Regions from separate parts of the Homo sapiens genome. Here regions 1, 3, 4, 5, 6 and 7 are each linked to region 2. A link means that fine-mapping ties the variant in region 2 to the expression of a gene that starts in the linked region. Tissue or cell type: whole blood. Region 2 holds a variant in brackets; each other region holds the start of a gene. Each region is shown on its reference strand, or each on the opposite one.

The links. PIP is the estimated chance that this variant, and not a neighbour inherited with it, causes the effect.
Region 1: GPR19 starts here. The variant in region 2 is the best candidate, but not a certain one, in a credible set for the expression of GPR19 in whole blood (TOPMed, PIP 0.60).
Region 3: it holds the start of SLA, and the variant in region 2 is the best candidate, but not a certain one, in a credible set for the expression of SLA in whole blood (TOPMed, PIP 0.51).
Region 4: CFP starts here. The variant in region 2 is the best candidate, but not a certain one, in a credible set for the expression of CFP in whole blood (TOPMed, PIP 0.57).
Region 5: CA4 starts here. The variant in region 2 is the best candidate, but not a certain one, in a credible set for the expression of CA4 in whole blood (TOPMed, PIP 0.52).
Region 6: it holds the start of CXCL6, and the variant in region 2 is fine-mapped to the expression of CXCL6 in whole blood (TOPMed, PIP 0.97).
Region 7: it holds the start of ITGA5, and the variant in region 2 is fine-mapped to the expression of ITGA5 in whole blood (TOPMed, PIP 0.99).

What each region holds. Positions count from the first base shown.
Region 1 is chr12:12,693,916-12,697,992 of GRCh38, forward strand. It overlaps GPR19 (G protein-coupled receptor 19), which reads right to left and starts at 2,268. Exons shown (of 4, transcript NM_006143.3): 1 at 2,150-2,268; 2 at 1,544-1,596. RefSeq lists enhancers at 2,016-2,175, 2,356-2,435.
Region 2 is chr7:50,219,157-50,223,233 of GRCh38, forward strand. No RefSeq gene overlaps it. Among named protein-coding and RNA genes, the nearest start is that of IKZF1, 84 kb to the right of the region's middle. The variant G/A (reference allele first, on the strand shown) is at 2,062.
Region 3 is chr8:133,100,886-133,104,962 of GRCh38, forward strand. It overlaps SLA (Src like adaptor), which reads right to left and starts at 1,717. Exons shown (of 9, transcript NM_001045556.3): 1 at 1,668-1,717. The region is part of intron 43 of TG (thyroglobulin); the gene reads left to right.
Region 4 is chrX:47,627,801-47,631,877 of GRCh38, forward strand. It overlaps CFP (complement factor properdin), which reads right to left and starts at 2,130. Exons shown (of 9, transcript NM_001145252.3): 1 at 1,969-2,130; 2 at 1,724-1,874; 3 at 302-477. The coding sequence starts at 2,044.
Region 5 is chr17:60,147,578-60,151,654 of GRCh38, forward strand. CA4 (carbonic anhydrase 4) reads left to right here and starts at 2,396. Exons shown (of 8, transcript NM_000717.5): 1 at 2,396-2,515. The coding sequence starts at 2,458.
Region 6 is chr4:73,834,468-73,838,467 of GRCh38, forward strand. It overlaps CXCL6 (C-X-C motif chemokine ligand 6), which reads left to right and starts at 2,211. Exons shown (of 4, transcript NM_002993.4): 1 at 2,211-2,392; 2 at 2,497-2,629; 3 at 2,736-2,819; 4 at 3,156-4,000. The coding sequence starts at 2,284. The coding sequence ends at 3,174. RefSeq lists a silencer at 2,185-2,479.
Region 7 is chr12:54,417,489-54,421,565 of GRCh38, forward strand. It overlaps ITGA5 (integrin subunit alpha 5), which reads right to left and starts at 1,778. Exons shown (of 30, transcript NM_002205.5): 1 at 1,493-1,778. The coding sequence starts at 1,710. All of the region lies in intron 2 of GPR84-AS1 (GPR84, ZNF385A, ITGA5 and GTSF1 antisense RNA 1), which reads left to right.

The DNA.
Region 1 (4,077 bases), not on the chromosome of region 2:
TGGTCTCAAGCTCCTGACCTCGTGATCCCCCCGCCTCCGCCTCCCAAAGTGCTGGGATTACAGACGTGAGCCACCGTGCCTGGCCCTAGAGGGAACTCTTAAAGCAGTGGCTCTCAACCTTTGTTGCAAAATGGAGGGTTTTAAGAAAGTACTGATGTCTGGGCTCCACTCGCAGAGATTCTGATTTAATTGGTATAGAGAAAAGCCAGGGCATTAGGATTTTTTTAAGCTCCCAAGGTGATTCTAATGTGTGGGCATGGTAGAGTACCTGTCTTTTTTTTTTTTTTTTTTTTTTTTTTTTGAGACGGAGTCTCGCTCTGTCGCCCAGGCTGGAGTGCAGTGGCGTGATCTCGGTTCACTGCAAGCTCTGCCTCCCGGGTTCACGCCATTCTCCTGCCTCAGCCTCTGGAGTAGCTGGGTCTACAGGTGCCCACCACCACGCCCGGCTAATTTTTTGTATTTTTTTTTTTTTAGTAGAGACGGGGTTTCACCGTATTTGCCAGGATGGTCTCGATCTCCTGACGTTGTGATCCGACCGCCTCAGCCTCCCAAAGTGCTGAGATTACAGGCGTGAGCTACCGCGCCTGACCCGGTAGAGTACCTGTCTTAAAGCTCCCTAAATACAGACGGACCTACGATGCACAGAGCATCCACAATTCAACTGATAGGTGGCATGTACTTTACACTAAGTTCTATGCTACCTCATTTTGTCATTACAATAATCCTATGGCACAGGCACTATTATCCTTATTTTATAAATTGAGAAACTGAGATTCAGACAGGACACACAGAGTGACTGGCAGACCCTAAAGTCAAAGCCCAGGTCTGATTCCCAATTGTACACACTTTATATGACATCATATCGAGATGTCATGCCTCTCAGAGCTGGATGATCCCACTCCCTAAAACAAGACACCCAGGCTTCAACCCTGAAATCCTATTCCATTGCCTCCATGGATTTTTCCTGCAGCATTTTCCTATGCACTTCACACATACAGCGCAGCTGCCAGGATATACTTTAGGCTGCCAAAATGAAATGAAGTCACTTTCTTGGTAAGTGATTACCATGCCTGGCTCTTTACTGAAGTACTTCCATTCTATATATTCACACTGGGATCCTTCTCCATCACTGCTAGCTTCAATCCTGTGGCTTTCCATATTTAGTTTTTCTTACAGATGAAGTGATACTCTTTACCTATCAGCCATTCCTTTGTTGGAGTAAAATTACGTATTCCATCAGCATTCTTCTGCCTTGTACTCCAGATAGTATACAAAGAATCAAATTATAGTAGCTAAGTGGCATAGAATTGCTGCCGATATCAAGATGGACTCTAATATCTAGTGAACTGGGAGGCTAGAGGCTAGAAGTATGTACTTCTGTAAGGTGTCAGTGACACATCTGAGTAATGTGGTAGCTAAATGCCACCATTTCATTCCATGAAATCCACATTTCATTCTGGCTAAAGGGTAAAGCTGGTGAGAGGTGGGAGGGGCCAGGAGGCTCCATCGGAAGGAGGCAGACACTTCAGGTGTTGGGTGGTACCTTTAAGATGTTGCGGGGCCAAATCCAATGCCGGTGCAGGTGTCCCATATATCCTGAGAGACAAAAAGAGGTCAGATTGGTCAGATCCCTCGAGACAGTTCCCAAATTCCTGACTTCTGTTACCGCGACTGTTCTTCGCAATTCCACCTCGGCCTGTGTTCAGGACTGTGGCTTTTAGAATCTTCCTCATTCCATTCCATTAGGGGCGTCCCGATTTCCACCTTATATACACCATGTACTAAATGCATGCCATTTCTGCCTGTTTACAAACATGCATAAGTTCACACTCTTTTAAGAAAAATGTCCTCTACTGTCAACTTCTTTCTAGTCTGGCCTCCCAGGTAGGCTACAGAGCTACTGCCTTCATTTATCTCTCAAATCTTCCCATCTTCTCCTTCCCACTGTATTACCTTAGCTCACACTCACATCCTCTTGGTCACCAGCCAAAAAATAAATAAAACTCCTTTGTCCCTTCAGATTTCTCTCTTATTCTACAACCTCATTAATCGGCTCTCCCGCTCCCACTCCTTTACTACTTCAGTCGCTGAAACCTCCCCTCACAGAGTTCACGGCCAATATAAAAACGGAAAGAAGGGATGACCATACGAGCTTGTGGACTTTTGCCTGCAAAATCTCATAGAATGTGGTGTTGTGTACGTGAATCCATCAGATCAACGCGACGGACACTCCCCAAGGGCCAAATCGGACCGCCTCTCACTAGGCGGAAAGTTTTGAAACTTTTGCGCGCTAAAAATGATGAGCCAGACGCATGCGCAAACGTGCACTCCCGGGGTGGCGCTTCTCCTCAGGCAGATCTCGCGTGGTTTGGTGATGGCCGGCTAGTATGAAGGTTTTCCGTGGCGTTGAGATCCCACCCGCCCTTTTTTTTTTTTTTTTTTTTTTTTTTTTTTTTTTTTGCTGCCCCAGTGGATTAGGATTAGTGCTGCAGTCAAATGAAAAAGATCAAGACAAAAAATTAGGCTAATATAACTAGCCGACAGGCTAGCGGCATTTCTCTGGGGCCGAGGAATTCCACGAAGAAGATCTCTGCGAGGCCCAGAAGGCCGCACAACTACTTCTTCAGAAACAAAATTTTTTAAAAAAGTAAAAATAGAGGAAGTCAGCCAGTTTATCACCTTGGAACCAGCGTTTTGTTTGGCTTTTCCGCTTTTCACTCTACGAAAAAGCCCATTGGCGGCTACCCAGGTTACCGTCCTGTTGCCATTGCGCCTGCGCGGCGGTTTGTTTACCAGTCCAGGCGAAGCGCTGTGTCGCGGTTCTCGCCGCCCCGAGCGCCTTGGTTTGCTCCCTTGACGTGTAATTCGTAATGAAAGTCATGTTTTCATTTGGGAACACGGATCGGAGGTTTAAAACTGGACAGTTTAAGTGTCAACTTCAGACCAAAGAAAATAATGGTAGGGAAAACACTGGACACTCAGAAATCGGTGCCGCGTCAGAGCTGTCACGGAAGATGTTTCTAATGAACCTGAGGAAAACAATAGCACCACCCTAACCAGAACTAAAAAGTGGCAAGCAGCCACAGTTAATGAAACTCATAGGTGGCATTTAGTTACTTATTTAGAATGTAGGCCTAGTTATGGTAAAAATGCAAATAAGACCAAACCTAAGGTCCTCTTGCTCGAGCAAACCTCAAGCAAAACCTACATGATTTAAGACTGACTCTTGAAGCGAAGTAAAAAAAAAAAAAAAAAAAAAAAAGCAGCCATGCAAAATTTGAAACTTGGAGACGACTCTAGAAGCATTAACCCAAGAAAGCACAAGCCAACAAACAAATTTTTGAAATGGTTTGAAGAGCTCTTCAAAGTCAGTTTCAGGTGGCTTAGAAGAGGATGTTGCTTATAAAATGAGATCTGATGGAAACTTGTTTTACAGATATGACTGGATTCGTTTGAAAACAAAAAAAAAGGCAGGCAAAGTGACTTTTTAAAAAGTATTTTTATGGAAGGATTTCTAATGATACATTTTAATGTGCTCAAAAAACAACCTTAAATAACTGGTAGATTCAGCCAAACCTGGATCATTGTTATCTTAGAGCTGGATAAGAGCATAAATGTTAACAATTTGGCAATTTTATTGGACTCTGTTATGTTTTTGAATGGTGAATTTGAAGACTTCAACTTGTAACAAGAAATTTTCTAAAAGGAAAGTGGGATTTTCAAGACATATGAAATTAAGCAGAGAATATGTATGGACATGTGAACAGATGGAACCAAATTTTGAAAGCTTTGCATGTGTCCAGCATCGGTCACAGAAAATCCTTTTATCTCAAGAAACTAGCCTCTGGATTTTCTCACGTTCAATATGATAAAACTCAGTAAATCCAGCAGCTTGAATACCTTTTAACACAAATTTGTACCAAAATGAGAAGTAACTTTAAAATTCCGCTCCATTATCTAGAGGTACTCTGACTTGGTTAAGGTAAGGTGAAAATCGGTTTTCCAAGCCAGTATTGAACTGGCATTTTCATCATGAAGAAAAAAAAAATGCAGATAAAGTGAATGGGTATCTTGTTC
Region 2 (4,077 bases):
TGGGATTCCAACTCAGGAGAGTTAAGCTCCAAGCCCTTGATTTTACCACTTGGGCCTTGTTACTCAAGGTCCAGGAACAAGTGGCACCTGTGCCACCTGGAAACTTGGTAGAAATCAGATCCTCGTGCCCCACTTCAGATGTACAGAATCAGAATGTGCATTTTCTCAAGAGTCCCAGGTTTAAGCATGTGTTCTGCCTTCCTGGGGAGGGTCCTTGAGCACTTTGGGGTCACAATTCAGCACCAAGTGGTGGTACATTCCCAGGTCAGGAAGAGGCTGTGTGTCTCTGGAGTAGAAACCCTAAGAGGCATAATAAGCAATAGTGCTTAGGAATAAGTGCTCAATTGTGATAATCAAACAGATAAGGAAAATAATGAGAAGGTGAGATTTCATGAAAGACAAAAAGACTAGTAGATGTTACACCTCTGGTTGTTTCTGAGTTTGTGAGCTCTTCGTCCATCTCTCCATCCACTCATTCATCAGAATGACTAAGGATCTAAAATGTTGGAAGGACACAGGCTGTCTCATTTTGCCTGTTTGGCCCACAGAGAGAAGTTAAAAGAGTTTGTTCTTACACCTAAGATGAGCTTCTAAGTTCAGTTACCAGAATTTTCAAGCAATGCAGAAAGTGGCATTCTGTGGTGGTCTTTAGAAAAGCAGTATCTCCTAAATCAAAGCAAGAGAGAATAAGACCACACATAAATCAAATGAAGAAAGAGTAGTGCCATCAATGATAGAGACAGACCTGAGGAGAGGGTGGTGGTAGAAAGAATCTGAATTAGAAAAGGGAGGAGAAGAAAGCCATGAGTGATGCTTGTCAAATTTGGGACTGGGCCCACACTGGCATTAAAGAGACCTGAATAGTACCTAGAAGTGTTCTGGGAGTTTTCACCATCCTGTGCTCCAATCATATCCTAATAGTTACTGATTTGGAAGTGGTACCCTGGGTCACATATGTCAATATCAATAGAAAGAAATGATTCTTATGGTAAATTCACAAAAGGATTATTTTTGGATTATAATTTGGCATCATGTGAGTTTGACTACCATGGGCTTGTTTCTGAGAATGTGATCACTTCAAGATGCCCTTACAAAATTGATCCTCTCTATTCTGAAAAATTGTAAGCCCTTGACCTGGCTTACTCACCTAACTACCGAGTGGCCCAATCAGCAGGTCTCCTTTCCTGGCATGGCACTGTAACCTCCTCACCCTGGATCTCTCCCACTACTTTCTTACAATTCAGTTAAGGGATCACCCATACCCACATGCTCACTGCCTCTCCCACAGTTAGTTCCTGAATCTGTTTTGACTGAGGTTGCAATTACTTAAACTTTTGCAACCATCCCCTTCTCTCTATTCAACAGGCAGAACCTAATATCATCACTCTTATTACGTGGCTAACCAGGGAGCTCCTGTTCTGTGCCTCAATTACCAACTCTCCCTGTCCTGTGCATGCCCTAGTCTATGGAAAGGACTTTAAGTGCCCTTTTCTGTCTCCATTTAGTCCTCCAAATGCCTTGCTTTCAATATTGAAGTCCAGCTTCTGAACACCCTACCAGGTGGCAAGGCTCCAAGAACCATTTTTTTAAGTGGTTCCATACTGCTTGGCATCATTTAGCCAATATGCTCAGGGTCTACACTCCATCTACCACTGGGATCCCATCACCACCTGCCTACCCCACTTCCACTCCCACAGCTGACAACTTTCCCTGAACAAGATTGAGATTGTTGTGCTCTTGGACACTTGTGCCCAGCCTCCCCTGCCCTGACAGCATCCTTGCCCTGTGGGTTCCTCCAGCCTCCATTTTCTTACCCCAGTGGGGAGACTAAGCACCACCTATGACTATCTCTTTACTTCATTACGTGGCTGGAGATGGAGTTTCTTCTGTAAATGGCATCTGACCTATCTCAAGATAGAGGAGCCCAAAGGAGTGATCCGAGTGAGTGAAGTGAATTAGTGACAACTTCATGCAAAAAAGTTTGAGACACGTCATGGAGATGAATTAGGGAAGAGGTAGAGGAGGACCTCCAAATAGAGGAAATGAGGTAACACTTGCAGG[G/A]ACTGGGCAACCACCAGCTCAACAAGGGAGGGGACAGAGGTCAGCCTGTGGCAAGGAGCTCCCAGCCCCTCCCTCTCTGGGAAGAAGCAGTGGAAGCACCTTTCCTCCAGTTCTGCTCTGGACTCCCAGCAACAAACCGTCATGATCTGGGAACTTTGCACAGCCAAGGATGAAATGTCAGCCCTCAAACCTATGTCAGAGCTGCTGTGAAAATTGGAAATAAGAAACTTATGATAGGAAATTCATTTGCATGTACTATTTTACTTTTAACCCAGAATGATAGCTTTAGGCTTAAGCCATCCTATATCATCTGTATGAATTATTTCTTAATTTTCACTGAATGTTCAAAAGTAGAGTCATGTTTAATCATATAAGCACAGAGATGCATATACACACATATTCATACCTGCATGGGGCAGGGGAGTGTGTGTGTGTGTGTGTGTGCATAAACACAAGTTGCTGGGAGGAGATGAAATGAATAATGCCATACACTCACAACTTAAAAAAAATTGGGAGTAGTAGTATTTTGTTTCTCAGTTATTAATTCCAGTTAATGTAGTGATTAGAAAAGGAATCCACAAACATTTACTGGAATCTAAGTTCAGCCAAGCATAATGAGACTGGCTCATGTTATTTTTAATAGGCTTTTCATAGCTCATCCCTTAAATATAGAGAAACAAAGAGGTAAGAGAAATCAAGTCTATTCAAAGGCACATTCCATCCATGATACCAAGATTACAGCAGTTCTCTCATGGCTATAAAGCTTTGTTCCTGTCTCTTTAGCCAATTCAATAAGTAAGCTCACAAATGGGATAAAATAGATTAAGGAAGCCCTAAATGTAAGTGTCAAAGATAAACAGAAAACATAGTATACTCTTTCTTGCTCTTTTTGCACTGTTGTGTGACTTGAAACATTTTCCCTAGTTAGTTAGGAGACTTGGAATACTTCCAATCTGCCCCTACTCCTTGCCGCTTATAAATTCTTAACTTCCTATTGATACCAAAGATATCACAAGAAAACAAATCAATATATCATATTAATATAGATATAAAAACCTTCAACAAAATACTAGCAAGCCAAATCCAGTAACATATAACACAAACTGTATACCATGTGTATGCATACCAAGTGGAACTTATTCCAGGAATTCAAGGTTGGTTTAATATCTGAAAATTAATTAATGTAAAATAACATATCAACAGAATAAATGATAAAACCATATGATCCTCTAAATTAATGCAGAAAAGACATTTGACAAAAATCTAACCCCCTTCATGATAAAAACACTCAAAAAGCTATGAAAAAAATGGAAATTTCCTGAGCCTAATAAAAGACATCTATGAAACATCCACAGCTAATTTAATAGAAAATGACTTATTGTTTTCCCCTAAGATCAGGAATAAGACAAAGATATTCATTCTCACTGCTTCTATTCCACATTGTACTGGAAGTTCCAGCCAGAGAAATTAGTCAGGCAAAGGAAATAAAAGGCTTTTCGACTGGAAAAGAAGAAGTAGAACTATATTTATTTCCAGATGACATGATCTTATATATAGAATATGCTACAGAGCACACTAAAAAAATAGAATTAATAAATGTGTTCAGCAAGGTTGTAGGATATGACACCAATATGCAAAAATCAGTTGCAAATCTATACATGAGCAATAAACAATTTGAACGTTGTTTTAAAAATTTCATTTACAATACCATTCAAAAGAATAAAATACATAGAAATAAAGTTAACAAAGAAGAACCAATATTTCCATGCTGAAAAATCACAAAACCTTAATTTAAAAAAAGAGACATCAATAAATAGGAAGACATACTATGTTCATGGATTGAGAGATTTAATACCATTAAAATGAAAATACTCCCCAAGATGATCTATAGACTCAATCCCTATCAAAATTTCATCAATCTTTTTTGTAGAAAATGAACAGTCAATCCTGAAACCCACATGAAATTACAAGGGACCTTGAATAGCCAACCAACCTGAAGAGAAAGAACAGAGTTGA
Region 3 (4,077 bases), not on the chromosome of region 2:
AACTCATGCTCTTACTTTACGTTATCTCAACTGTATGGCTGTGAGGTAGGGAACCATGAACCAGTATTTAACACGATTTTTTTTCTGGGAAAGAAAGGCTTAGTGAGGTTTACCGGGTGTCTCTAGGTCAGCTAACTAGTCCTTTGGAAAGCCAAGTCTCCACTGCAGGTCTCTGACCCCAATTGCAGGGCAGGAGTGGGGAGGGTGGCGGGTGGCAGGCTCTACCCATTACCCTATCTGTGATAAACACTAGGTCAGGGATGCGCTATCACCACCTTACCCCCACCATACGCAAGCATCACCTAGAGAGATCCTCAGGATTCTACCCCACACAGAACTGCAAGAGGGCACAGTGGACAACCAAGTGGAAACTGAGTTATGAGCTATGCTCCCACCCTCCCAACAGTGAGGAAACTCCTCTGGACTTCAACCCAATGTGCCCTTGTATTGCCCTCCCTTGCCTCAGCCCACTCCCAACCTGAATTTAGAGTTGGGCTTGTGCATTTCTCTGTTTGCCCCAAGAAGGCTCCATGGCACCTGGGTCCAACCACCATCAGCCAAGGAGGACCTGAAGATGGCAGGTTCTGGAGGGCCTCAATCTCAGCCATGCCTTTTACTCCATCCTCTGTCCTTTGATACCCACCCAGCCCCTCCTGCCCCATCTGGGGCTGAGAAACAGGACATATCAATTGCAGTAAATTGCCACATCCACCTAAACAGGGTGTCCAGCATGTTTTTGTAACACCAACACCTGTTTGTTTAGTCATGCTGGGCCAGGTGTTTCAGCATAAAATACAAATTGAATTCCTCCCCTCAGAAGGGCTTGCAGTCAGATGATAACAGACAAGGCAAACAACTGAAACACCATTGATACATACTATATGGAGAGATGGACATCTATTCCAAGACCTCAGGAGGTGGAGATCAGGTGCCATTGGGCCCCATAGCAGCACTGTCAGCTGGAGTGACACAATGGCCAGGAACTGACCAGGACCCCGCTCCCTTGGTCATGTGTCAACACAGCAGGGAGAGTGTCCTGGGTGTCCTTGGATTGCAATCACGAGCATCCAAGTTACCCAGAGTCTGAGCCTCAGTTTCCCTATCTGTGAAGTTGGGAGATGATTAGTAAATATCCTCATAAAGATGTTCAAAAATTCAAATACACAACAATATCTGGAAAATAGTTTGGCTTCAATAAATGTTCGTTCTTTTCCCTTAATTTTTTAATTTTAATATTAAGATTAGTGTCCAAAGCTGTTATCCCTTCTTCAGATAATTATACACAGAAAGCAGGAATACAAAGAACGTCCAATCTCTGAACCACCTCAGCTGACCTGAGACCAATTTTCCAAATTGTAGTAAACACAAATGCATGCTCTCTACTCATGCCAACGCTGCATAAGTATCAGCTGGATCCCAGTCCACAAACACATGCAGTGCAGCTTCCCAGGGAAGTCACGGAGGGACAGGAGTGGAGCCTCTTACCCCAAGTCCTGCCCCCTGGAGCTACTCACCACCAGCAGAGACCCACCCATTTTCTTCAGACCAAAGACGGAGGGTGGGTACAGGATCCATCAAGTCCCTCTGAAGACCCTCCCCCACATACCACCCCAGGCCACCTATGGCCCACCCAGGGGGTCCCAATGACAGCAAAGTTAGCAACCTACCGGTGGAGCATCAGGGCTGCCTGAGATGTTCTCCATTCGCAGCAAATGATCTTATTTTCTGAAGTAGCAGCTTTCTATTGAAATTCTTCATCAGTCGCTGTCATGGGGAATTTCTCCCCCTTTTCTCTTTCTTTCTAACTGGTGAAATTGACAGTCTGCCTACATTATCCAGGCATTCATTTGCATGATCAAAAGCAGATTTGTTCCAAGATGCAATGTTCTGCCTTCCCTTCCAAGCACAGGCATCTCCAAGGAAGGCGAGAAAAATCAGAAACAGAGCGCCTCCGCTGTGCCCCTAAGCTTGGCCAGGAGTTGGCCTCGTCTGGGAGCAGGTGGAGTGGGGGCCCTGTGGGTAGCAGTAGGGGGAGGGCAGCCCATGTGGGAGTTGGAAAGCAGCACCTGGCAGCCCGAGGCGCTGGCACGAGCCCCAGCACAGGAATATCCAGTCTTTGGTGACAGATTATAGTAAGAGGAGTATGCAGGAGTTTCCAGTGTGTGTGTGATTTCCTGAAAGGAGGCACTGCTGCCTTAAATCCCCAGCACTCAGGGACGGGAGGGTGTTAGGGTCTGAACCCAGGGCATCGCGGGGACCTGGATTCAGAAAAATGGGTCACAATTCTTAGCTTTAGCCACACGATGTAGGAGAGTTGCTGAACTGGTCTGAGCTGCAGTTTCTTTAGCCTTCAAATGGACACAGTGAGAGCCACCCTGTCTGTCTCTTGCAGTGTTATAAGAAGCGAAAGAGGTATCTCCCAACACCCAGAGAGCCCTGTAGGTCTCATGGCTCTAGGATGCCCTTGCACACTGTAAACCCTCCACCCTGGAGCTATAGCCCCACATTACCCCTCACAGCTGACGCTTACACGTCACGTTGTCTAATTCTCCCCAGGGGCCCTGTGAGCTGGGATTATGGTTCAGAGAAAGCTGAGGATCAGAAGGACTGACTTGTCCCCCCCAAAATATTAAAATATTGTATTTCATGACTGCATTGTTATAAGGATGAATGTAAACCAGGCTGGATTCATTATTACATTTTCATTATTATTATATTTTTTCTTCTGATTTTAAAAGAAATTAGAAAGAAAAGACTTTTGTGAGTTCCTAAAAGTGCAGTGAGCCCTTGGCCCTGAGCAAGCTGTGCTTGATGGAGAAGTAAGTCCTTGTCCCTTAACACCATAAGGAGCAGTGAAGTCAGGAGTCATTCAAGCATTAACCCATGCAGCATCTCTCCAACATAGATTATTCAGAGGCTTCTGTGCGCTGGACTCTCTCTAGGCTTTAGAGGGCACAGTTGTAACCTAAACAGATAAAGCTTCTGACTCGGAGAGTTCATGTTCTCATGAAAGGACACAGATGATGTAAGTAAATAAAGAATTTCAGATCTTAGAAATGCCCTGAAGAACACTGAAGTGGGGCCATTGCAGAGGAGGCGATGGAATGGGGCAATTACTTTAGGGGCAGTCAGAGAAGGCTTTTCGGAGGAGGTGACTTCTGGACTGAGGCCTGAGCAATGGGGAGCCAGCGATGGGGATTGAGGTACAGAGTGGGTGCAAAGGCCCTGGGGCAGGAGTGGTCCTGGCTGTTTGGGGGTCACAGGGAGGTCAGTGCTAGGAGATCCAGTGGCCAGTGGAGGGACTGGGAGGAGAGGAAGTCAGAGGGATGAAGAAGACCAGTTATGAGATCTTTCAGGCCATCAGAAAAGTGACTTTATTCTCCTTGCAGTGGGCAGTTACTGGAATGTTTCAAGCTAATAATAGAAGGTGATTATATTGATCCACTGTTTTAAAAAGGAACATTTCTGGCAGCTATATGGAAAATTGACTAAGGAGATGTGTGACCCAGGAAGTAGAGATCAGATTGGGCTCTATTGTGGAAATCCAGGGGTTGAGCTAGTAACTTAAATTAGGGTTGCAGACATGGTCACAGTAAAAAATGATCAGATTTGGGATATATCTCGCGTTGGCAGCTGACTATATGAGTTGGGAATTCAGTAGAGAGGTCAGGGCTGTAGATACAGCTTTGGAAGAAAACCAAGAAAATGCGGTATCACAATAGCCAAGAAAAGAAAGCATTTCCAAAAGGAAGCAAAAGTCAAATGTCACAGAGTCAAGAGAGATGAGGGCAGAGATTGGGCTCTTGTAGGTCATGGGAGACCTTGATGAGGGCCATTTCAGTGGAGTAACGGGAAGGAAAGGCTGATTGGAATAGGCTGGGGGAAGAGGGGAAGTGAGGACATGGTCACATTGCTTCCCAAACCCACCCTGTCTCCACTGAATGATGCTCTCCACTGGATGCAAACGGCCACCCAGGATTCACAGAGCACTTTGCTCATTCACCAGCTGACCCCACTGACTTCACCAAGCTCTGCTCCATGACAGGAATTGTGTCATGTCCATTTGGAATCCTCAGT
Region 4 (4,077 bases), not on the chromosome of region 2:
CATGGGTGCCTCCGCTTCCCCTCTCACCCTCACCGTGCACAGTCTGTTCTCCTCCCAACCCCAGTCAGATCACGTTCCTCCTCTGCCCACAGTCCAAATTACTCAGATGAAAAGCCAACGTCCTCTCTGTGGCCCCCAGGCAATGGACCCTCCTCACCTCTCTGACCTCACCTCCCACCACTCTCCTCCTTAGGTCCTTACAAACACTGGGGACGGGCCCACTCTGAGGACCTCTGTACCGATCGTTCCCACCAGTGCTGGGTGACAGGGAGTGCTTGCCCGCCTTGCTCATCCTCCTCACCAGGACAGCACTGCTGGTCCTCACAGGCCTGGAGCTGCCACTCCAGGGTCCCAGGTGCCACCTTTCCAGAGCACTGCCCATTCCAGCCCACACAGCGCCGGTACCGCAGCTGGGAGCCCTCAGAGCACGTCACCGAACAGGGGGCCCATGTGGACCACAGGGACCATCGTGGGGACCTGTGGAGAAGAGCACACACATCCCATCCTGGCATGAGCTAACAAGAATGGCATGTGGGACTCCAGAGTGTGGGCAGACACGAAGGGTTGCTAGGCAAGTGCGTGTGCGATGGATTGATAAGTCCTTACCTTTTAGGGATATTGGGATACTGATGGGAAGCAGTGGATATACAATAAGTGCTTGATAATGTCATTTACCTTCACAATCAGGCATCTGGAGTTACCATTGGAAGGCTGCATGGCCAACACCAGGTCCGCAGTAAGCAAAGGTAAGGACTAGAAACCAAGGGCTGCTGTCAGAAACCCACCAGATCACCACACTACACGGTAGTAGGTAAATAGAAAGTGCTTAATAAACCTGAGCCATCATCCCTATGACCTCAGAGGCCTCCTCAGAAATAACCCCAGATCTATCCCCAACCCACTGCATAGCCCTAGGTATGCTGTTCATGCCAAATAGATGTGATGAACTGTTGACATGACTTGGGGCCCAGAGCTGCCCTCAAAAATCCCCAAGCTCCCCATGCCCACGGTGTATCTGGGATATATAGTAAACAAGTAGAAAACAGGTCTGGCATACGGTAAGGGCTCAATCCATGCAAGCTGGAAATCATGATCAGGAGACTAGAGCTACCCTCAGAAATCCTCAAGCTCATCTCCCAACCCTGCCATGCAGCTGGTATACAGGGAGTGCTCAATGAATGTGAAGTGTCATCATAATTAGGGGCCTAGAGCTGCCCTTTGAATTCCCCAAACTTTCCCGCCCCCACAGTGTGTCCATATACAGTAAGCACTCAATAAACATGAGCTGTCATCAAAATTAGGGAAATACCAAGCTGCACCCCACCTGCAATGCTTCCAGTGTGCAGGAGGTGCTCAATATGTGTGAGCTATGTCAGTGGTTCTCAATCAGGGGTGATTTTGACCCCCAGGGGACATTTGGCAATGTCTGCTGACATGTTTGGTTGTCACAGCTGGTGGGGAGAATTGCTACTGGCATCTAGTGGAAGGCTAGGGGTGTTACAAAACATCCCACAATACACAGGTAAGCAATCCCCTCCCCCAGCCAAGAATTTCCAGCCCCAAATGTCAATAGTAACAAGGTTGAGAAACCCTGAGGTATGGTCACGATCAGGGCCTCAGGGCCACCCTTGGAAGTCCCAGAGAAAGAAAGTGCCCAGTTTTGGGTGACCCCCACAGACAGTCCTTCCCTCCCCCCCATCCCCCACCCCAGGCTCCCCCTAACCTGCAAGGCTGACAGAGCCCACCACTACGTTTCTGGTAGGCAAAGGCAGTGTTGAGACAGCAGTCTTCCACGCTGACACCACCCCCCAGGAGGCCCTTGCACTTGCCGGAGGATTCTTCATACTGGGTGAAGCAGAGCACGGGGTCTGAGCCTGTAACAGGGCCAGGGGATGGGTGGGTGGGGCTCGGTCAGGGATGTGGTGGGCCTGGACACCCCTGGGGCCAGCTGGGCCCTCACCCCCTCACCTGTGGCTGGCAGGGTGAGCAGCAGGAGCAGCGGCGGCAGCAACAATCGAGGGGCCTGCGCTCCCTCTGTGATCATGTTGAGTACTGCCCCCTGCACCTCTACCAGAGAGGAGGTCCCGCTTTATCTGGGTTGATAGGCTCCTGGAATCAGCAGGGAAAGAGGAACCTAGAGGCAGGAGGAACTGGGAGGGCATCCTGCTTTGACCCCACCCTGTCCCCTCTGCCTCCTTCTCTACTCTCCCCTCCCCATTTCCTGTCTTACTCTTGGTCTTGTTCTGTTTGTTACTATATCCCCAGCACCTCGCGCTCCTCCCAGCAACCTCACAGTGTTCAATAGAAGCTCCTAGGACAAATTCTCACCCAGAGGAAATGGAGCATAGGAGCGTGCAGCAACTTCCTAGCCGTGTGACCTTGGGTGAGTCACTTAACACCCCTGAGCCTCAGTTTCCCTATGTGGAAAATGCATAATCTCTAACATAATGACGGGGTCAACCTCGTGGGGGTGTTGAACCAGGGTGAAGTGAGTGTGCGGTGCTCAGTATGTTCCTGCTCGTGGGGGTGGAGGGAGCATCGAGTCAGTTGCTCCACCTTCCACCCTCCCTTAACCTCGGCCCTCCTTTCCTGAGAGGTTCCCTGTGGTCAGCTTGTGGTCGGGGAGGTCAGCACAAGGGAAGTGAGAAAGGGAAGTGGCAGGAGCCTGGGGAGGGATTCAGGAGGGGAATGGGGTCTATCCATTGTTCCATGGGCCCAGCTGGGGACAACACCAGGGTCTGGGGTGATTAGGAGGGAATAAGCTGGGCCATATTCCATCAGAGAACCCTCAGGCAGATAACACCCCCCTTCTGGAGCCTGTTTCCCCTCTGTAAAATGTGCTCACAGACAGCACCTACAACATAGGTAGGGTGTGTTGCAAAGATTGCGAGTTAAGCTTTTGTTTGTTTTGTCGAGATGGAGTCTCACTCCGTCGCCCAGGCTGGCGTGCAGTGTCACGATCTCGGCTCACTGCAACCTCTGCCTCCCGATTTCAACCAATTCTCCTGCCTCAGCCTCCTGAGTAGCTGGGATTACAGCCGTGTACCACCATGTCCAGCTAATTTTTGTATTTTTAGTGGAGACAGGGTTTCACCATGTTGGCCAGGCTGGTCTCGAACTCCTGACCTCAGGTTATCCACCTGCCTTGGCCTCCCAAAGTGCTAGGATTACAGGCGTGAGTCACCGTGCCCGGCCAGGAGTTAAGCTTTTGGAAAGTCTTTAGAACAGTGCCTGGCATATAGTAGGTGCTCTGTGTTTGATAAATTTATTCAACATTTATTGAGCACCTACTGGATGCCAGATGCGGTTCTTAGCATTAGAGCAGAGAATAGGACAGACAAAAATCCTGGCCCTCGAGAAGATGGATAACAAATGTTGCCCCTCCTCACAGAGGCCTTCCCCATACCCTTGTCTGGCATCCCTGTCACTCTCTAGCCCAGTAGCTTCCAAACCTGTTTTTTTGTTTGTTTTGTTTTAAAGAGACAGAGTCTTGCTGTCACCTGGGCTGGAGTGCAGTGGTCTGATCATAGCTCATTGCAGCCTCAAACTCCTGGGCTCAAGTGATTTTCCCACCTTAGCGTCCCCAAGTAGCTGGGACTACAGGCACACACCACCACACAACTAATGTTTTTATTTTCTGTATAGATGGGGTCTCGTTGTGTTGCCCAGGCTGGTCTCAAACTCCTGGCTTCAATATTTTCTCCCAACCTCAGCCTCCCAAAGTGCTGGGATTACAGGCATGAGCCATCACACCAGCCCTTCTTTTTTTTTTATTTTTTTATTTTTTTTTTATAAACCCTAATGAAACTCCAGGGCCCACTTTAAAATTTTTATTTTGCTTTTAATTAACAAAAAGAAGCACAAGAAAGATAGGAAGGCAATGCCTAATTTCCTCTGCTCTCAGGGAGGCAGAGGAATTCTGCAAATTCAAATGTAATAATTTGGTCAGCTGTTAAAACAGAAGTTCTTCAGGAACACTTGTTTTATGGGCAGTAAAGTATGTGTTAATATCTGTATCCATTACAGACATACTCTGTTCTCTGATAACATAAGGCTATCCTTGAAAATGTGCTTTGA
Region 5 (4,077 bases), not on the chromosome of region 2:
AATCTTTGCATCCGCCATGGGCCAGTGGCTACACCCAGGCACTGAGAGGCCGGTTGTGAGAGTCTGGGCTGGGCAGGCCCTGGTTCACAGCAGACTCCAAATAACTGTTTATTGGTGGAGGTCAGCCGGGCAGGGATTACCATCTCCAGTTTATAGATGAGGAAGTTGCAATCAGCCGGGTGCAGGAAAGTTGCCCAAGGTCATCCGTGAGTCAGAAGAAGAGCAAAGACTTGAACTCAGAACACTGGGGGCCTCTGCAGAGTAAGAGGAAGGAGGCTGGGGCTGCTGGGCTGGGCTCTCCCACTCAGGTGGCCTGGGCTGGCAGCTTTATGGGCCCTGTAAGTCGCTGGGACATGTCAGCACTCATTCCAGCTCTAACGACCCTAAATCAGGCCTTGTCCCCTACAGGTAAGCAGGGCCCCAGGTAGTCTAAATAGTGACAGGTGACTGGTTTATGGCAGGCCAGGACTGGGGTCAGGGCTGGAGATAAGGCTGAGAATGTTAAGACCAGGAACAGGAAGAGAGGGCCACTCACCCTGTGTAACCTTGAAGTTAGAGATGGCAGATGGAGCAGGAACCAGTCCACCACCCCATCGCCAATGTGCAGGCTCTGTGGTGCCCATAATTAAGATGCACCCATAAGAGAGTGTATAGCTTTACCCCTCCCGCATTCCTCAGAGGGGATGCCCTACCAGGGACTCGTTCTCCTCACCCATCTTTATGGTCCCAAAATGCACCCAGGGCCCCCCTCTCTCCTGGGGGGCCTGAATGCAATGAACTTTAAAGTGGATCATTGATCAACAGTCCCTTAACCCCACCAAAGTTTCCCAAGCCTCTCCCCTGCTCATCAGGGGGCTGGCCAGAGGTCACAGGGACTCCCTGGGGGTGGTTTTTATTCCCAGGAACAGGCTTCCTCAGTCCTGAAAGGGACATTTTTATAGCCCTGTGAACACAAATGCACTCCCCAGAATAGGCTCTGGGTGTGGAATCCCTCCTGTGGCTGTCATGGTCGCAGGCTGGTGATTACATTATACAGTGGTGTTGACAATAGAGCCCTAAGCCTGGCATGGACACCCCCTCACCTCCCTCCTGCCTCTCTGTAGGATCAAAGCTGCTCTGTGAGGCTGTGTGATCCTGGGCCAGGAGCGGGGAGTCAGCCTCAACCCTAAGCAAGGAGGAAGCATCTTTGCCTGAATCCTTCTGGGGGAGGCAATCCCCCTTCAGAAGTCCCTAGCCCAGGTTCGAAGGTCGGTAGGGACTGAGAGGTTGGCAGCGGATGGGGAGTGGCTAAACCAGAAAAAGGGGGCTTCCTGTTGATGGATTGATGGAGGAGGTCCAGGTCCACTGCCTGGTTCCCCGTCCCTCTCCCGCACCCCAGCCTGAGCTTCCCAAACTCCCACAGAAGCCCCCACCCCATGTGGGACACAGAGGACCTGCAGTAGCAGGAGGGCACAGCTAAGAGAGGAGACAAGAGGCAGCTTGGGGGCATGGGGGGGACCCCATTTCCCCAAATGTTGGAGCCGCCCTTAAGGGAACTTCCCCTGGACTCCTCTGGAGGTCTTGCCAGATGGGAGAACCAGGGGTCCATTCAGACCCCAGTCTCTTCTCTTCCCATCTCATCTCTCCACCTGGGGGGCTCAAAGAACCTAGCTCCTCCCCTTTGACCCCATCAGCTTCTCCCTCACCGAATCCTCTTACAATCCATTTCTTAATTCTGCCCCATCAACCCTCCCTGGTCATCACATAAACACCAGCAAGGGCAGTAGTTTAGGGACAGCTTTGCTCTGTATTCGAAGAAAGGTCTTTGGTCTGCTTAGAAATTAAGTTTGGAGCAGCCTGGGAGGAAATAGAAGAGATGAGACCCAGAGAATCAATGGCCACTGCCAAAGAGAGATAGGAGAGCCTTTCTGCGGCCACTGATTCAACAAACGGCATCACACGCCCCTCAGCCTCTCATCTCTTCGAGGCCATCTCCACCCCCACCCCCACCCCCACCCCAAGGCCATTCCAAGGTCCCATTCAAGACCACTGCGCAGGGGTGGCGCCAGAATGATCAAAGTCATCATGGGGCACTCATCTTTGTGTGGGTCAAGCACTTTGTGGTGTCGTGTCCCTGTTCCCAAACCAGGGACCAGGAGTAGGATGGGGGAGGGGCAGGGCGCCGCTGCTGAGTGGAGAGGACGCGGAGTGGGTGAGGGGGCCTTGCGCACAGGGCAAGAGGTGGCCAGGCAGGGCGGGGGACCGGGGAGAGCGGAGGATTTCAGATGAGGGACAGGGGAAGGTGGAGAGGGGAGGGCAGGCCCCGCCAGGGGGAGGAGCCGCCTCCCGCGTCCAGCTGTCGGGGCTCCCTCCCGTCGCGGCTCCGCTATAAAACCCAGGCCGGCAGGATCGCTGCACCCGCGGCGGCCTCCTCGGTGCGCGACCCCCGGCTCAGAGGACTCTTTGCTGTCCCGCAAGATGCGGATGCTGCTGGCGCTCCTGGCCCTCTCCGCGGCGCGGCCATCGGCCAGTGCAGGTGAGCTCCCGGGCTCCGGCCCCAGGTGCCCCTCGGCGGTCCCCTCCGTGCCCCCAGCTCCCGCCCCTGCAGAGGATCCCCCCGCGGGCGACCGGTGAGCGTCGGTGGCGCTGGGGTCCCGGGTTGCGTGTGCGCCGGGGGCCGCGAGGGTGCGGGAGGACTGGGCAGCGCGCGAGCTTGTGTGTGCACACGCGTGTCAGCACCGGCTGGGGGAGCGTGTGCACGGGTGTGCGCGGTGAGGGTGTGTGCGCGTGGCCCGGCGAGACGAGTTGGGAGTCCCTGATAAGGATGCGTCTCAGGCCGGGCGCGGGTGCTCCAGCCTGAAATGCCAGCACGTTGGGAGGCAGAGGCGGGTGGATCACCTGAGCCCAGGAGTTCGAGACCAGCATGGCCAACATGGTGAAATCCCATCTCTACCAAAAATACAAACATTAGCCGGACGTGGTGGCACACGCCTGTAATCCCAGCTACTCGGGAGGCTGAGGCCCGAGAATCGCTTGAACCCAGGAGGTGGAGGTTGCAGTGAGATCACGCCACTGCACTCCAGCCTGGTGCTCCGTTTAAAAAAAAAAAAAAAAAAAAAAAAAAAAAAAAAAAAGGATGCTTCTCGGACCCGCCTCAACGCACGCCTTCTTTTCTCACCCAGCCTCCTCCGTCTGCCCGTGGGTTTCCGTCCGTCCCGCTGGGACTCAGCGCTGGGTGACTGCCCCGCGGCCAGAGCAAGGGCGGTCTGGCAGGGTCCTGGAAGCCGCGCTTCCCACACGGGTTCCTTGCCCCTGAGGGTCGCAAGCTCCCCTGGCCTCCCTAACCTCCAGCGCTGAATTGGGAGCCTGGCGGGGGCGGGGGGTGGGGGACCCGGAGCCCCAAGGCCTCTGCGGAGCCGGTCTTTCCGGACAGGGTGATTTTCGTTTAAAGATTAATGGTGAAGCCGAGCTCTTAATTATTCCTCTAGGTGGGAGGTGGCAGGAAAGGCATGTTAATATTTGATAAGAAGCTAAAGGCGCTTCAAGCGGCTGGGCACAGGGATCCGATCCTGGAGGCACCTTCTTTGCAACCCCAGACCCCATCACCGGAAGACCCCCTCTGCCAGTTCTCAGCCCAACCACCCCTCGGATGGTTCTTGGGGTCCACGCAGGCTGAAACCTCCTCTCCCAAGTTAGGTGCTCCATCCTCAAAGCGGCGGAGTGAGGGGTGAAGGTGTCCTCTGCACAGAGAGGAGCCAGCGTGTGCCCTTTGCAGCAGGGACTGGCTGAGCTGTCTTAGAGGGTCGAGGGGCACCTTGCAGCCTCTCCACCGGGCCCCTGGGAGAAGAAAGAGAAAAAGCAGAATGTGGAAACTTTTATTTGTAGGGTTGGACATTGGAAACCTACTAAGCAGCTAGAAAGTAGAAAGAGAAATGCTTTGCAGTTCTGGTGCTTTGTAGCTGTGTGGTCTTGGGTAAGTCACTTCCTGTCCCATTTGCAAAACAGGTGTTGTCATTCTGACTTCAGGGGTTTTAAGCGTTTGAATAAGATAATGGGTTTAAGTGATTAGTGCGGTGCCTGTGTGGCACGTGGCTGGTG
Region 6 (4,000 bases), not on the chromosome of region 2:
CTGAGAATGATGATTTCCAATTTCATCCACGTCCCTACAAAGGACATGAACTCATCCTTTTTTATGGCTGCATAGTATTCCATGGTGTATATGTGCCACATTTTCTTAATCCAGTCTATCATTGTTGGACATTTGGGTTGGTTCCAAGTCTTTGCTATTGTGAATAGTGCTGCAATAAACATTCGTGTGCATGTGTCTTTATAGCAGCATGATTTATAGTCCTTTGGGTATATACCCAGTAATGGGACGGCTGGGTCAAATGGTATTTGTAGTTCTAGATCCCTGAGGAATCGCCACACTGACTTCCACACTGGTTGAACTAGTTTACAGTCCCACCAACAGTGTAAAAGTGTTCCCATTTCTCCACATCCTCTCCAGCACCTGTTGTTTCCTGACTTTTTAATGATTGCCATTCTAACTGGTGTGAGATGGTATCTCATTGTGGTTTTGATTTGCATTTCTCTGATGGCCAGTGATGGTGAGCATTGTTTCATGTGTTTTTTGGCTGCATAAATGTCTTGAGAAGTGTCTGTTCATGTCCTTCATCCACTTTTTGATGGGGTTGTTTGTTTTTTTGTTGTAAATTTGTTTGAGTTCATTGTAGGTTCTGGATATTAGCCCTTTGTCAGATGAGTAGGTCGCGAAAATTTTCTCCCATTTTGTAGGTTGCCTGTTCACTCTGATGGTAGTTTCTTTTGCTGTGCAGAAGCTCTTGAGTTTAATTAGATCCCATTTGTCAATTTTGGCTTTTGTTGCCATTGCTTTTGGTGTTTTATACATGAAGACCTTGCCCATGCCTATGTCCTGAATGGGTAATGCCTAGGTTTTCTTCTAGGGTTTTTATGGTTTCAGGTCTAACGTTTAAGTCTTTAATCCATCTTGAATTAATTTTTGTATAAGGTGTAAGGAAGGGATCCAGTTTCAGCTTTCTACATATGGCTAGCCAGTTTTCCCAGCACCATTTATTAAATAGGGAATCCTTTCCCTATTGCTTGTTTTTCTCAGGTTTGTCAAAGATCAGATAGTTGTAGATATGCGGCATTATTTCTGAGGGCTCTGTTCTGTTCCATTGATCTATATCTCTGTTTTGGTACCAGTACCATGCTGTTTTGGTTACTGTAGCCTTGTAGTATAGTTTGAAGTCAGGTAGCGTGATGCCTCCAGCTTGGTTCTTTTGGCTTAGGATTGACTTGGCCATGCGGGCTCTTTTTTGGTTCCATATGAACTTTCAAGTAGTTTTTTCCAATTCTGTGAAGAAAGTCATTGGTAGCTTGATGGGGATGGTATTGAATCTATAAGTTACCTTGGGCAGTATGGCCATATTCACGATATTGATTTTTCCTACCCATGAGCATGGAATATTCTTCCATTTGTTTGTATCCTCTTTTATTTCATTGAGCAGTGGTTTGTAGTTCTCCTTGAAGAGGTCCTTCATGTCCCTTGTAAGTTGGATTCCTAGGTATTTTATTCTCTTTGAAGCAATTGTGAATGGGAGTTCACTCATGATTTGGCTCTCTGTTTGTTTGTTATTGGTGTATAAGAATGCTTGTGATTTTTGTGCATTGATTTTGTATCCTGAGACTTTGCTGAAGTTGCTTATCAGCTTAAGGAGATTTTGGGCTGAGACCATGTCTCTGTTTGTTTGTTATTGGTGTATAAGAATGCTTGTGATTTTTGTGCATTGATTTTGTATCCTGAGACTTTGCTGAAGTTGCTTATCAGCTTAAGGAGATTTTGGGCTGAGACCATGGGGTTTTCTAGATATACAATTATGTAATTTGCAAATAGGGACAATTTGACTTCCTCTTTTCCTAATTGAATACCCTTTATTTCCTTCTCCTGCCTAATTGTCCTGGCCATTGGAGAGGAGGAGCATCTCCCAGACAGCTGCGTGCCTCAGAGAAGCCAGCCTCGCTAACCCCTCAAGCCCAGGGGATGAGACCCTGCTGAATCGCTGCTCTATTTTGGCTGGAGCCACAGCTCCCTCCACCGCGGGGCGGGGCTAAAATGTCCTCCCCCTTAAGGGAGCAGGCAGCTCCTCCCAGCCACCCACCCCACCAATTCCCATCCTCCCGCCCCCCTCCACCAACCCCTTCTTTCCACACTGCCCCCTGAGTTCAGGGAATTTCCCCAGCATCCCAAAGCTTGAGTTTCCTGCCAGTCGGGAGGGATGAATGCAGATAAAGGGAGTGCAGAAGGCACGAGGAAACCAAAGTGCTCTGTATCCTCCAGTCTCCGCGCCTCCACCCAGCTCAGGAACCCGCGAACCCTCTCTTGACCACTATGAGCCTCCCGTCCAGCCGCGCGGCCCGTGTCCCGGGTCCTTCGGGCTCCTTGTGCGCGCTGCTCGCGCTGCTGCTCCTGCTGACGCCGCCGGGGCCCCTCGCCAGCGGTGAGAGCTCCTGGCACTGGGGTGCATCCCAGCCTCTGCGGGGCCGCTGCGTTCCAGGGAACTCTCCCAGCAACCTGCCCTATAAAAATGTCTTTCTTCCCCAGCTGGTCCTGTCTCTGCTGTGCTGACAGAGCTGCGTTGCACTTGTTTACGCGTTACGCTGAGAGTAAACCCCAAAACGATTGGTAAACTGCAGGTGTTCCCCGCAGGCCCGCAGTGCTCCAAGGTGGAAGTGGTGTAAGTTCTCCTGTGTTGCTGTGTCCACTGTGACTTAGGCAAGTCCTCCAGCCTGGGTCGTCAACCTTTGTGGCTCATGGGTGCATCCTCTTTTTCTTTACTTCAGAGCCTCCCTGAAGAACGGGAAGCAAGTTTGTCTGGACCCGGAAGCCCCTTTTCTAAAGAAAGTCATCCAGAAAATTTTGGACAGGTATTTGTCCCTTTGATCTTTGTGGTGTTTTAATATCTTCTATGGAAAGCATATACTTCACAATGTCCTTATTCTCTCTGTAGGATTTAGACTATGCTTAGAATTATAAGGTTGTTAAGAAGAATAAGGAAACTTTTTTTCTGGAATGTTCTGGGTAAACCTTTATCACCAATCTTACATGCCTGAACAATTACACAGAGCTCATTACTGACATCTATTTTTTGTCTGCTCTTTGCTTTTATTGATTTTTTTCCCCCACCAAACGCTTTTGAAAACCAAATGTAGCATACAAGAGTGTGGGAATTGGTTATACTAATATAACTCTTTTCTCAACAGTGGAAACAAGAAAAACTGAGTAACAAAAAAGACCATGCATCATAAAATTGCCCAGTCTTCAGCGGAGCAGTTTTCTGGAGATCCCTGGACCCAGTAAGAATAAGAAGGAAGGGTTGGTTTTTTTCCATTTTCTACATGGATTCCCTACTTTGAAGAGTGTGGGGGAAAGCCTACGCTTCTCCCTGAAGTTTACAGCTCAGCTAATGAAGTACTAATATAGTATTTCCACTATTTACTGTTATTTTACCTGATAAGTTATTGAACCCTTTGGCAATTGACCATATTGTGAGCAAAGAATCACTGGTTATTAGTCTTTCAATGAATATTGAATTGAAGATAACTATTGTATTTCTATCATACATTCCTTAAAGTCTTACCGAAAAGGCTGTGGATTTCGTATGGAAATAATGTTTTATTAGTGTGCTGTTGAGGGAGGTATCCTGTTGTTCTTACTCACTCTTCTCATAAAATAGGAAATATTTTAGTTCTGTTTCTTGGGGAATATGTTACTCTTTACCCTAGGATGCTATTTAAGTTGTACTGTATTAGAACACTGGGTGTGTCATACCGTTATCTGTGCAGAATATATTTCCTTATTCAGAATTTCTAAAAATTTAAGTTCTGTAAGGGCTAATATATTCTCTTCCTATGGTTTTAGACGTTTGATGTCTTCTTAGTATGGCATAATGTCATGATTTACTCATTAAACTTTGATTTTGTATGCTATTTTTTCACTATAGGATGACTATAATTCTGGTCACTAAATATACACTTTAGATAGATGAAGAAGCCCAAAAACAGATAAATTCCTGATTGCTAATTTACATAGAAATGTATTCTCTTGG
Region 7 (4,077 bases), not on the chromosome of region 2:
GGGGTTGGGTGGGGACCTTGAATAGCCCAGAACAACAGTCGGGGCCTAATCATTTTTCTTTTCTCCCATCCCCAAGTCCTCCAGACAAAGGAGAATTTGCCTTTCTCCCCAGTTGTATTAGCTAGATTAACCCCTTTTCTCCAAAAACTATAGGGACTGAGTAGAGATCAGTTAACTGTCTCATGTGTAAAAACAGGTCGCTTCTGACAGAATTCCCCTCAAACCCTGAGATCCTGGGGTTGGGGTGGGGGTGAGCAGTAGGAAGCTCCCAGCTCAGAGATGTAGAAGAAAAAGGATTACACCAGTCATTGTGGAGGACCAGGAATCTGGCATCTATGGCCTAGCCCAGGAGCAACCACCTACCTCTCTTGCTTCCCAATCTCCCCGCCATCCCACATTTAAACAGACACCCTTGGTTCTAATGTTGCTTCCACTCTAACTCCTGTTTCCCAAGCCTGTCAGTACCCCATTTTCTAGGCACTCGGGGTCCGGGTCTGCTTATCACTGTGCTGAGTTGGGAATAAGGATCCTCCTTTGAGATTTCCAGGGTCCTGAGTCCTTCATTCTGACGTTCTTGGCCCCACGGAGCCCCCGTCTCCCCAGCTTCCGACCCCAGCCCCAGAAGTCCCGGTCTCAGCACAGCTCCAGCCGACCAGCTACAGGAAACCAGCTTTTCTCTTCCTCCCAAGAGCCAGAGGAAGAGGGAAACCGCCCACCCCCCTTCACGCGCGCACACACCCCTCCCGACACATCCCAGCACCCGCCCTTGGCTGAGTTCGCCCCCAGCCCCAGGGCCCCAGTGCCAGGGTCCCCGCACTCGCCCCCAGTTCTCGGATCCCCTCGCCTGAACAGAGATTGGGGGCGGAGGGAGGAGTAGGAGACAGAGGAGAAAGGAGAGGGAGCCGCCGTCCTCTCTCGGGTCTTTCCCCGGTCTGAGTTGAGGGGGGAGGGGAGGATGAGGCTGGCCCCCATTTAACCTTCCGACCCCCTCAGTCTTTGACTTTCCTCCTACTACACGTAGCTCATTCGGCTTCTACCCGTTCTCTCGCCGCACAATGGCCCCTACGGATCCCGAGGTCTCCTGGAGCCCCCAAAAGCCCTTCCCGGCCTCTGCGCCCCCTCTGCGCCCCCACCCGCCCCAGGTCCCAGCAGCCCACAGACTTCAGCCAGAGACCCTCAGCTCTCCATTCACGCGCTCTCCTCTCCCTTGGCCCGGAGACCCCTGCCCAGACTTCTCCAGCTCCGTGTCCTCTCCCCACCGGACACATGTCTCCCCACTGATCTCAAACGCCAGGGCCCCTCCTCACCCGCCACGGTGCCCTCCCTACTCCAGCGCGGGCCCCCAACTCTAGCCAGGGCCCCCAACTGCAGCTCTATTCCTTACAAACTCCACCCTCAAACTTAAGCCCTGGTCCCCTCCAGACCCCAGCCGCGCCCCCAGTCTCCAGGCGGCTCCCCCACCCCCATCCCGTCTCCAGCCCTCCTCACTCACCCGTCTGTTCCCGGCCGGTAAAACTCCACTGAGAATCCGAAGAAGGAGCCCGGGGGCCCCGAGAGTACTGCTGGGGCCTCCGCGTCTAAGTTGAAGCCCCCGACCCTGGGTGGCGGCGGCAGCAGCAGCAACAGCAGCGGCAGCAGCGGGGGTCGGCGCCGGGGGCCCCAGCGCAGCTGCACGGCGTGGAGAGGGGACTCTGGCGTCCGGCTCCCCATAGCGCCCGCTCTTCCCTGTCCTGGGGCCACCGACCCGGAGCCGCTTCCTAAACCTCCCAGAGGCGAATGACTCAACGCGGGGAGGAGTTTGCCAAACTCCCGGCTGAGCCCTCCCCCCGCCTGCCGAGGGGGCTGGCGGGGGGGCATTCCTGGGTCCCTGGAACTCTGAGCCCGCGTCCCCCACCCCTAAGGGGCGTGGGGGGGGGGCGCACCCCTCCAACCCCCTTTCCCCAGCCCCAGCTGGAAGCCGGTTGTCTGGACTGGGTTAGACTGGGCGGGTTTGGGTTCTTCCCCCTCCTCTCTGCTTCCCCCTCCTTCCTCCCCATTCCTTTCCAGATGTACAACGTAAACGCTCGGAAAACGAGTCGGAAAAGGGAGCGGAGAATTTCCTAATGAGGAAAGGAATCACCTCTGGTGGGCGGAGGAAGCCTGTATATGTGTGTGGGGTCTCCCTCAGTGCTTTAGGGAGGAGACTTTGGGGTCTAAAGAGACAGGAGACTCCTCTGGCGTCCGGCCAACTGGGATTCCCCCTTGCCTTCCGGGGCCGCCGGGTGCCTGGGTTCTGGCCAGCTGGATTTGGGACACAACAGTTGAGGTACAGAGACAGCGTTCGCAGTCAGCTTGCTAGAGGACCTACACGGGCTCCTCAAGTTCCGCTGCTTCCTCCTCCAAGCTTGCTAGTATTGAAAACCCAGGAGTTTGGGGTCATTCATCAGGAGGATTCTGCTCCAGTTTGCCCCCTTCTTGGTCCTAGGGTATGTAAACCTCTGCTGAGCCCCTTCCTTGGATCTGACAGTTGACCAAAAGCCTGCGAGTGGCTGGCCCCTCAGTACCTGCTTGATTAAACTGGCCGGGTTCCTACAAACCTGGAGAATTGTGAGAGGTGGTGGTGGTGGTGGAAAGTCTTGCAAAGGGACCCAACCTTCAGCTCCTAATGGCTGTAAACGCTGGGAGCTCTGGCCAGGCACGGTGGCTCACACCTGTAATCCCAGCACTTTGGGATGCCGAGGTGAGCAGATCACCTGAGGCCAGGAGTTCAAGACCAGCCTGGCCAACATGGCAAAACCCATCTCCACTAAAAATACAAAAATTATCCAGATGTGGTGGTCCGCACCTGTAATCCCAGCTACTCGGGAAGCTGAGGCAGGATAATTACTTGAACCCAGGAGGCAGAGACTGCAATGAGCCGCGATTGCACCACTGCACTCTAGCCTGGGTGACAGAGCAAGACTGTATCCAAAAAAAAAAAAAAAAAAAAAATCCAAAAACCAAAAACCAAAAAAACAATGGGAGCGGAAAGCCAGGACCCCATTCTTCCCAGATTCCCCTGTGGAAGTAGAGGAAGGGACTCTAGAAAGGGAAGGCAGTGACCCCCTGCCCACCTCTTCCCCAAGCTCAGGCTCTGTGTGATGAGATCACTTTTCAGGATTCTAGCCTTTATCTTAGTCTGGGGGAGGGGACTACAAGTCCTTTCAGTCTCTTTCCTCCAGGACTCCTCACTTTCCAGAATAATACCCTGTCAATAATATCCTGTCAACCCTGTCCCTTCTGTTCTCCAGTCCCCTGCCCCACTTCGGGCTGAAAGGCTCAGAATAAGAGTGCCCAGAGTCAATGTTTTTTTCCTGCCATGACTCTCCCCCTCACTCTGCTACTCCACTTCCTGTCCCAAATCACCCATCTGCTTTTTTAAAAGCCCCCCTCCAGAGCCAGCTGCAGCCCAAGGGAGAGGCTGGCTGGCCAGACTGTGGGGCAATGCTGGCCCGTATCCCATTCTCACATCTGCAAGTCCTGACCCTTTCTTAGGTGAGGAACCCAGGGAATCTCTGGGTCAGGATCTTTAAGCCCAGCATTGCCAAAAAGGCAACCTTTAGGTGAGAGCTACTCAAGCCATGGGCTGGGAACCCCCTTTGGGAGGAGAAGGGCTGAGGCCTGATTGCTTTTTAGCCCAGCAAAACACGTGTGTGAACCAAACACTCTCCTTTCTCAGTCTAGGCAAACTCTTTAGATTTTCCCAGGATTTGGGAGATTAGGGGTGGGGGTGGGGAGGGGTGCAGGGAAGGAGGTGTGTGACTCAGCTCCTCCCAGGAGCCTTGGTGGGGGACAGGGGACATAGCGTCCTGCCCCAGTCCTCCTCCCCACTCCACCCCTAGCCTTGGCCAACTCAAACAGGCCCCCTCCCTGTCCATTCCCTGCTCCTGTTTACACCGGGAGCCCCTTAGTCATTCTTTGGCTGGCCTTTCTACTCTCCCCAATATCCCTCCTCTCTTGGCTCTTTCTGCCCTTATAAGTCCTCTCCCAGTGGCCCCAACACCTCCTGCCTTTCCTCTCACCATGCCTGCCTTTGCCTGATCCTCTCTTCCTCTGCTC